Regions from separate parts of the Homo sapiens genome. Here regions 1 and 2 are each reported to be linked to region 3. The links are microRNA targets in miRTarBase. Many come from high-throughput screens and were not tested one by one. Region 3 holds a microRNA gene; each other region holds the end of a gene's coding sequence.
Evidence for each region. Region 3 holds the annotated microRNA hsa-miR-661 (UGCCUGGGUCUCUGGCCUGCGCGU, at 979-1,002, opposite strand). A microRNA usually pairs through its seed, bases 2 to 8, with sites in the 3' UTR of a target mRNA and lowers its output. Matches are read on the target gene's strand: a 7mer-m8 pairs with bases 2 to 8, a 7mer-A1 pairs with bases 2 to 7 and ends in A, and an 8mer does both.

Region 1 (3,150 bases), not on the chromosome of region 3:
TGCTCCAGCTTCGTGGGCCTTTCACAGAATTTGCTGCTGCGTTCTCCTGGATTTCGCCAACTTTGCCGAATACCATCGACCAAGTCAGATTCAGAAACTCCTTATAAAGACATATTTGCTGCCTTTAATACCAAGTTCATTTCAAGAAAATGACATATTTTCCAATAATTTTGAAACAGTTGCAGGAGTCACTATCATCTAAATGTATTTAGACTTAGAAATTCAGATGTTACTTGATTTCCTTTTATTTAAAATCATTAACTTCATGAAATATTGTAGGTTAAGATGTAATCCAGACCAGGCACAGTGGCTCATGCCTGTAATCCCAGCACTTTGGGAGGTCGAGGTGGGTGGATCACCTGAGGTCTGGAGTTTGAGACCAGCCTGGCCAACATGGTGAAACCCTGTCTGTACTAAAATAACAAAAAAATTAGCTGGGCTTAGTGGCAGGTGCCTGTAATCCCAGCTACTTGGGAGGCTGAGGCAGGAGAATCGCTTGAACCTGGAATACAGAGGTTTCAGTGAGCTGAGATCACCCCATTGCACTCCAGCCTGGACAACAAGAGTGAAACGCTATCAAAGAAAAAAAAAAGATGTAATCCAGATATATTTGACAGTAATTAAAATCTTTTAAATGTTATAAATGCAGTATGTTTGTGAAAGTATTAGAATAGAACCAAAGTGCCTGTCTCTGTTTATAAAGTTACAGTTTGTTAGAGCTACCAGAACTTTGGAGAATAGGGTTAGCTACTGAATGATGGCAAGTTAAACTAAACAATACTGCATATTACTGTTTTGTAAAATAAGAGGATCAGTGAGATGATTCATGTTTTTTTTTTTTGAGATGGAGTCTCACTGTGTCACCCAGGCTGGAGTGCAGTGGCGCAATCTCAGCTCACTGCAACCTCCATCTCCCGGATTCCAGTGATTTTCCTGCCTCAGCCTCCAAGTATCTGGGATTGCAGGTGCACACCACCACGCCCAGCTAATTTTTGTATTTTTAGTAGAGATGGGGTTTCACCATGTTGGACAGGCTGGTCTGGAACTGCTGACCTCAACTAATCCACCCTCCTTGGCCTCCCATAGTGCTGGGATTACAGGCATGAGCCACCTCACCCAGCATTTTTTTTTTTTAATTTTTTTAATGAGACAGAGTCTCTCTCTGTCACCTAGGCTGGAGTGCAGTGGCACGATCTCGGCTCACTGCAACCTCTGCCTCCCGTGTTCAAGCAATTCTCCTACCTCAGCCTACTGGGTAGCTGGGACTACAGGGGTGCACCACCATGCCCAGCTAAGTTTTGTATTTTTAGTAGAGATGGGATTTCACCATGTTGGCTAGGCTGGTCTTGAACTCCTGGCCTCAAGTGATCTGCCCACCTTGGCCTCCCAAAGTGCTGGGATTACAGGCGTGAGCCACTGTGCCCAGCTGAGATGTTTCTTATTATTTTGGAGGTGGAGAGGATTTTAGACCTCTTTGAGCATCTGAAAAAAGGCTATATATGTATGGTTTTCTCTTCAGAAAAATCTTAAGACTCACAATACGGGGACTTCCTTGTTACCAGGAAGATTTTCTGGCAATTCCTAGTTAATAAATCTTATTCTAATGGAACATACATTGATCTTGAGTTAATGCGTGGTTGAAAAAAAAAGCGGGGGCAACTTGAAATATATGCAGTAAAGTAGTCCATGCATACAAGTCCCTAACATGGTAGATGATGTTGCCTCCCGGCCCTGCTCAGAAAGAATACAAAAAGTGTACATTCCTTTTTCTATAATTTAAGAAGTCTGGAATACAGAGTGTAACACTGTGTACTGCTAGCACCCAAAGTGGAAAATCTTAAGCATTCAGATTGTTTAGTCAAAGAAGAAAACCAGAAGGGCAGTTGCCTATTGAGGTGATTTTAAACCTGTTTATTTGTAAGGATTAAGTACCCTAATAGGCTTAAACTATGATAGAGGTTTAATACAGAAAAAATTGACAGGTATTATAAATTGTGGATCCAGTTACTTGCTTATTTAATTTGTAAAGAGGTAAAATTAGCTCTGGTTGAGATATCAAGTATGGCAGGTATTTGAGAAGGCTATAAATCATAATTTTCATTTAGTTAAAATATGGACCTGATTCTGGGAAACCCTATCATTCCATCTCAATGTTTTACAATAAAATAAAAACTAAAGTGAAATTCATTAGTCATTTCTTTGATTGATGTCTCTTAAATTTTAGTTCACCTGCTTAATGAAGTTATGACATTTTTTAATAGAAAAAATGTACAGCATACAGAGGTAAGAATTCTGCTTCCCTGAGAATTTATTTTAGACATAGATGGTGGCAATTAAGACTAGGTTCTTTTTTCATACAAGTTCCTAGTCCTGGTTTCTGACTGTCCTATTGGGGCAATTGTGCTTTCCAACCACATTGAAGGAATTGAAATATCCTCATTATTTGTGGATTTTATATTTGTAAATTTGCCTCCTTGCTCAAATCTATCCATAACCCCAGAACCAGTACTTGCACAAGTGCTTTTGAGCCATTTGTAGGCAAAAATGTGAGTCACCTCCCAACAGAAGTGAAACAAATGGTACTCTGCCTTCTAGTTTCAGCTCTCATACCGTAAACATGTATCCTTTTTGAGTCTACTTAGTCCCATCTCTTCCTAATTTCTGTTCTTTTTGTTGGTGATTTTACTGTTTAAAATGGCCTCCAAATGCCCTGCTGGAGTGCTTTCTGATGTTCCTAAGCTCAGGAAGGCTTAGGAGAAAATAAGTATATTAGATAAGCTTCATTCATGCACAAGTTATAATGCTGTTGGCAGAGAGTTCAGTGTTACTGAATCAACAATATGTTGCATTGTTCTGTTGACAAAAACAAAGCTTGCAGAAACCTAACCCTGTATGTTTTCTAGGAGCAGTGATTTGGTATTCACTACTTCAGTGTTTGTGGACTTTATGGAACATAAGTACCACAAATAATGCAAATTGACTATATTTGCAGCGTGTACAATCAAGGATGCAGAGGCAGAAATGTGTGTGCAGCTTAGGTCATAGTAAAAAGAGGAAAGAATTTGAGGAAAATTTTGCCAGTTACATATTACCTCTGGAATAACTTTGCCTTTGCCGTGTGTGTTACTGTGTACACTCAGATATTTTTCT
Region 2 (3,000 bases), not on the chromosome of region 3:
AGCATGGCAACGGGTCCCAGCAGGGAGGGTGTGGGTGTGGCAGGGGTGAAGTGGCTTCAGAGGCAACTGTTGGCCTTTTCCTGTGCCCAGGACTACCCCATCACAGATGTCTGCCAGATCCTGCAGAAAGCCAAGGAGCTCCAAGACTCAAAGTAGCCCGGCGGCAAGAGGCCCATGTTCCGGAGAGAAGCCTCCCGACCCTGTGCCCTGGCTCCCGGGACACATAGAAACCTGTAGGAACCCAGCCTGAGGGGAAGCCACAGGATCGGCCCGAGACCCAGGCCATGCCCACTGGGGACACACTGTGCCGTGCTCCTTCTGCCGCCACGCCCAGCTCCCCACCTGCCCTGCACTCTGCCCTCTTTGCCCAGGATACTGAGGAGGGCTGGAGCTCGGGAAGTTGTCCTTCCTGGGCCAGGGCCGTTTCTGGCACTGGGAGGCTGGCAGGGGCCCCTCCCTGCCTCGGCTCTGCCGCCCCAGCCTCAGTTCCTGCTTCTGGTCTTCTCCTGGGCTCCACTCAGGGGAGGTGCTTGGCCAATGGGCCAGAAACCGCTTCTGAGCGGGGCACTTCGGCTGCTCCACAGGGAAGGCGACACTGAAAGCTGAGTCCTGCCGTCTGTCTCACCCACAGATGTCTGTAGTCGGTCGGTGTGAATGTGGGCCCAAGTCCCCAGGCATCTTCTCCGTGTGTGTGTGTGTGTGTGTGTGTGTGTGTGTGTGTGTGTGTGTGTGTTAGGGAGTGAGGGTCTCTCAGGCCTCCAGGTCTCCCAGCCCCTCCTTCTCTGTCTCTACCTCTCTGCCTGTCTCCTTCCACCTCCTTCCCAGAGTGGGACTGTGTCTTGCTTCATGATTCCTCTCTCCATTACTCTCCCTGCCCTTCTCTGTTGGGGTGCCTTATCCTGAGCCACCTCCTCTCCCCGCTTGCCTCTGCTCCCCTGAACCTGGGAGACAGATGAGGAGACTGGCTCAGCAAGGCCCCTGGAGGTCAAGCTTGGCCTTTGCCTCCTGTTCCCATCCCCCAGCCCTGGCTCCTAGGTCCTCCCAACTGGGAGGGAGTCCTCCGTGCCTCACTTAGAGGGTTCTGAACCCGTTCCCTACACAGAAATCTTGGAAACCAAATGCTGCTGAGTAAGGATGAAGCTTTGAGCCTCCTGCCCCTGCTTTCTGCCCAGGGAGGGAGAAGGAAGAGGGGGAGCTGGTTTTTCTGGAGGTTCCCCCAGAGGCCCTCCTGTCCGAAAAGAAAAGGACCTTGATTCTGAGCCCAGGGTCGGAACCCATTGCTTCAGAAGAGTTGTCATTCCCTCGGCTTCCAGGTCCCAACCCAGGGTTGGGTTGAGTGAGTCCCACAAAGGGCAAGTGGGGCCCGAGGAAGCCTCTCTGGGGCCAGGGGTAGCTGAGCTTAAAGGCCCTGGGTCCTGCCAGTTCCAGGAGGGCCATGTCTGTGCCTCTGTGTACCCCTCCACCCGCTGCGGGCTGAGGGAGGTGCAGGGCCTTCTCTGACCCCTGCCTGAGCTGTTCCCAGGGCTGGAGCAGGTGTACCCTGAGCAGGGGCAGCTGGCCACTCCCAGTTCTCACCAAGTCACCTCCCTCCTTGTACAAGGTTTGCGTCCGGAAGCCGGGTGCCATAGTGAGGACCCTCGTCCTCCAGACTGGCTGGCAGGAGTCAGGCCCCAGCAGCCCTCCTGCCCCCAAAGCTTTCCGAGTCTGGTGGGCAGGACTTCTCGCTGCCCTTCCAAGCCCGGCTTTGGGCCAGGAAAGGCTTCCCCAGGTGGCTCTTCTACCAGGCTTTTCCTTTGATGCCGCCTGGATTTCCGCACCTGCCTGTCTCCTCTCCCAGAGCACAGTATTTGGGAGACTTTGACTATTTATTCAGACTCCTGGCTATGTATTGCACATTGGCAAGTGCTCTGGGGATGAGGCATGGGTATAGGAAGGGAGAAAGGAGTTGGAGACAAGATCCTCTTCATTTTCCAAGATCAAAGTCAGCCTCTTCTCCCCATGCTTCTAGGAACTGCCTGGTTTTCGAGCAGGTCCTGGCTGAGCGGGCTCTGAGTTCTGTACTGGAATTGAGTGTAAAGATGGGAAGAGAACTGGGCTGACTCCAGGACCTCCAGGATGAGGCAGAGGCATGATGCTTCCTGCTCACCTGGGCCACCCTCTCTCCAGGACTTGTCAGCTGGTGGTTCAGCCCCTTCTCCAACCCCTTCATAAGCTTGGGCCACTGCCTGGGACCCAGCAGACACTGCCCAGGACTCTTTAGTGCACTCACTCTTGTCTGCCCCCTACCTTCCCTCCTGGAACCACACTACTTGAATCACCATTACTTTGCCTCGCTGGCAGAGTTGGGTCAAGTGCCCTCTCCTTGACCTTGAGATGAAGGTCAAGAGCACAGGGACCAGGCCTTGGTTAGGCTGAGCTCCCAGCAGGACACCGCCTGCAGAAAGGACCTGCCCTGATAATGTCCCTTCCCCAGATTCTCAAGCAGATGCCCAAGGGAGGTCCCCACAGAGCCAGAGTGCCTGAGGCTTCCTGCTTGAGAACCTGCCCCCTGGATCTTGGACACTTACAGATTGAGCTGTATGAATTCAGCGGGTCTCACTCCAGAGGGTCAGAACGTTTGCTTTAGTTTTTTCATCTGTTTTGTTCCTTGAGTCAGTGCTGTTGATGACGAGTTGTCTTGAATAAATCATGTGTTCTTTGCAATGGGCATTGGTGCTGTGATGAGCTGAAACTTTGGAGACCTCAGAACAGGGAAAAATGAACAGGGATGGAGTCAGAGTCTCTTAGAGTAGCCCTTCTAAGAAAAGGTCCAGGAAATCCTTCTGGGAAGAGCCTGTTGGATTCTTCCAGTTCAGCCTCAGCAGTCTGCAGCTGGGGGAGGAGGGAGTGAGTACTGGCTAAGGAGGTTCTGCATACATGATTACATAGCCTGTTATTTTTCAGATTTAAAAAAGCTTAGACCATCCATTATATGTGGAAAAAGCATTTGACAAAATTCAA
Region 3 (3,339 bases):
GCCGCACGCCTGGCCAAGCCGCAGCCCCCCAGCACTGCCCGCGGCCTCGGCACACACCCTCCCTCCCTCCCAGCCTCCCCCTGCTGTCCCCACCAGAAGAGGGGCCCGAGCAGCCCACTCTGCCTCCAAGGCTGCCCTCTGGGGACAGCTGGCAGGCATGGAGGGATGCCAGAGCCCCCACCTCAAGCCTGCAGCTGAACCCACTGCACTCCTTCAACTTCGCCCTCCTCACCAGCCCCAACACCCCAAAAGTGAGACTGCAGACCAGGGCTGAGGGGGTCTGGGTGAGGGCACATGAGGCAGGCTGTGTGCAGGGCGAGGGACAGCGCCCCTGGCCTCCAGCCTCAGCCCCAGCCCTCTGGCCCCTGTCCCCAGCAAGGGGCCAGGATTTCACAAGGCTTTCAAGGGCTGCCCACCTACCGGGCACGATCTTCATCGGGGACGGTGGCAGGAGCCCACGGGGCAGACGGAGCGGGCCAGGGGTGTGGGAGGTCACAGGCCCCTCGGAGGAGGCACAAGCCACTGGCGGCAGCGTCGGGTGGGAGGAGGGCACGGCCGTGCTGCTGTCAGCAGCAGCTTGTGGGGGAGGGGAGCAGTGGGCAGGGGCCCAGGGGATATAAATATCCGAGGAGGGCGCGCAAGGACCGTCACCACCCAGACTTGGAACATGACGCACGGCGCCAGGGCACCCAGGCCCCGCTGCAGTCAGGTCTGGCTGGACGGTGCCACCCGACACCTCGGTCCCCCAGCTCCCACAGGGGGTTCTAATATAATAGAGCAGGGCGCGGGAGGTGCGGGCTCACGTCCCTGCAGGAGGCGGTGCAGTCCCCACCCACCTGCCCTGCCAAGCCAGGGGGTGCTCTTGGAAAGGCCACAGGGGCCAAGAGAAGAGGCCGCCCATTCTCCCAGAGGGCCCTGCGCAGGTCACTCAACACAGCACCTGGCCCCACCGGTGGCCGGGACAGCCACCCCAAAGTCACGCGCAGGCCAGAGACCCAGGCAGCCCGAAACCAGGGCTCAGGCCTGCGCCTGCCCCACAGCACAGCCTCTCCTGGGGTCCCAGGGATCTGGGATGGAGACGCCTCTCCTGGGCCACGGCAGGAGACTGGCCTGGCTCCACCCAGGAGTCCCGAAGCCCTGCTCTGTGGAAGGCCTGGGTCAGAGAGCCGGGCCACAGGCAGGCCCACAGCATATCCTATGCAGATCAGATCCCAATGCAGCCGGGGAAACAGGACGTGGGACACGCACAGTCCTGCTCCTCTTCCTGGGACCCCTGTCTGCTGGGCGCACCCCTCAGGCCCAGGAGAATGCACGTTGACGGTATACCCCATTCCACAGCGTCGCTCCTGGCACCACATGGAACCCTCAGCAAACCCCATGAAGTCCTATACCATGAAGGCCTCATACAGACCAGGAGCCTGAGGCGCCGCCTGCTGTCCCGCACGCTGCCATCTGAGCCCAGGTGGCCTCCAGTGTAGTTACCTCAGCCCACAGCAAGGCACAGTGAACCAGCCTGGCCCCGGGCCACTGGGCAGGCCACCCAGGTCCATGCTGGGAAGCCCGCGGACAACAAGAGGGCCGGGCCCACCCCAGCCTCCTGCTCTCCAGCCCCACACCTCAAAAACGTGCGGCCGAGGGAAATGCCTGCAGTGGCCCACTCTGGGCGGCCAGGGGTCGGGCGGGCCCAGGCAGCCCTGAGGGTCAGGGATACCCAGGCATGCCAGAAAGGGCCCAACTCCCAGCTGAGCCCAGGACAGCATCTGGCCAGCAGTGGGCAGGGGCCGACAGGCCGGACGTTTCAGCCCACTCCCTGCCACGTGCTGGGGAAGCCTCAGAGGAGCCTGACTCAATGGCCTGGGTGAGAACCAGCTCCTGGCGGGAGGAGTGCCCCAGGCTGGCAGCGGGCAGTTCTTCTACCACTCCACGGAGGTCCGGACAGGCCTGTGCTTCCGGGACACACATCACACACACCCCTGGGGCAGCTCCGAGAGGGGGCTGTGCCTATCCCTGCATCCCAGGTCTGACGGCACAGAACGGTGGACAACGGGAAGAGACAGGTCTGCCAGAGGCGGCCCCGGCCCTCTCCTCTGCCTCCCACAGCCCCCAGCTCTGCCTGCCCTACCTTGGCCCAGCTGAATCAGCTCCTCCATGCTGTACCTGTCCATGGCTGCCACACAGGCCAGGCTGCTCCGAGAGCCGGCAGGGAGGAAGGCGAGGCAGGAAGGAGGGAAGGGGTGGGAGGCAGAGGGAGGGCCCACTCATGCCCTGGTAGCAGCGGCTCCTCCTCGCAGCCACCCCTTAGTCAGTAAGCAGAGATGAAGCCCAGCCGACTGACGGGTCAGACCAGCCCAGCAGACCTGCCTGGGGGTGCAGGGGACTGGCCTGCCTGCAATCCCAGAGAGCCCTCCGGCCCCAGCCCACGGGTCTTCCCTACTGTTCCTGCCCCGCCCAGCAGACCCCCCGCCCAGCAGACCCCACCCTGTAGCCTCCCCTTCCCGCTGCAGGCCCCACCAGCCCAGCCCTGCCCTCCCACCCTCCCACCCACATTCCAGGCATCCATGTGCCCAGCGGTATTTCAGGAGCCAGGCGGGAGCAGAGCCCCAAACTGCCCACCACACCCCACTCCTTGAGACTCACATTCCTCAGCCCCAAAGGTGGTCTCTTCCTCCACCTGAGTCCTCCCCAACCAGCACAGCCCCAGGCATCTGTCCAGGGGCAATGGTGACACCTGCCTCCCCTCTCCATACCTCTCCACCCAGGTGCTTGCTGACCAGTGAAGTGCAAATCAAATCCCATCGTAACTACCCCTTAGAAGCCTGCCGGCGATCTACAGAAATCCCGCAAACGGGTGACTCGGCCAAGCCAGTGATCCCTGTGGAAAGCTGGCCGGGCCATAGTCCCTCCACCTAGAGCACCCTGTGGCTGGGAAGAAGGGCAAGGCAGCCAGGCCACCTCCAGGCTTCCTCCTTGACGCAGGGCCACAGAGGGTCAAGGGGGGAGGTCAAGGCACAGGCGTGTCCTCCGTGTAGAGGGGAAGTCATGGTGGCTACCCAACCCCTGCCCTTTGCTGTGGGAAGCAGCTCTAGGTGCTGTGCGTGTACAGCGCTCACCGTGGTGGCGGCTACCTGGCCCCTGCCCGTTGCTGGTGCATGGACAGCGCTCAGCTGGCGTCTCCTCCACACAATCCTCGGTTCCTTCAGAATTTTGAGCCAGGCAAAGCATCGCCATTTGCAATGTAAATTAGGGCTGGGCGGTAGCTATAATCCCAGCACTTTGGGAGGCTGAGGCAGGCGGATCACCTGAGGTCAGGACTTCAAGACCAGCCTGGCCAACATGGCG

Region 1: miRTarBase lists COX18 as a target of hsa-miR-661. Seed matches in the 3' UTR shown: 7mer-A1 at 298-304 and 7mer-m8 at 864-870.
Region 2: the mRNA of TBC1D13 is a reported target of hsa-miR-661. Seed matches in the 3' UTR shown: 7mer-m8 at 277-283 and 8mer at 670-677.

Annotation. Positions count from the first base shown.
Region 1 is chr4:73,055,117-73,058,266 of GRCh38, reverse strand. COX18 (cytochrome c oxidase assembly factor COX18) reads left to right here. Exons shown (of 6, transcript NM_001297732.2): 6 at 1-3,150. The coding sequence ends at 153. Among named protein-coding and RNA genes, the nearest start is that of COX18, 13 kb to the left of the region's middle.
Region 2 is chr9:128,807,724-128,810,723 of GRCh38, forward strand. TBC1D13 (TBC1 domain family member 13) reads left to right here. Exons shown (of 12, transcript NM_018201.5): 12 at 91-2,707. The coding sequence ends at 156. Among named protein-coding and RNA genes, the nearest start is that of ENDOG, 9.3 kb to the right of the region's middle.
Region 3 is chr8:143,944,228-143,947,566 of GRCh38, forward strand. MIR661 (microRNA 661) reads right to left here and starts at 1,052; the gene lies at 964-1,052. LOC124902040 (a long non-coding RNA gene) reads left to right here. Exons shown (of 2, transcript XR_007061144.1): 2 at 1,339-3,339. It also overlaps a transcript of PLEC not described here. RefSeq lists enhancers at 2,482-3,269, 3,270-3,339.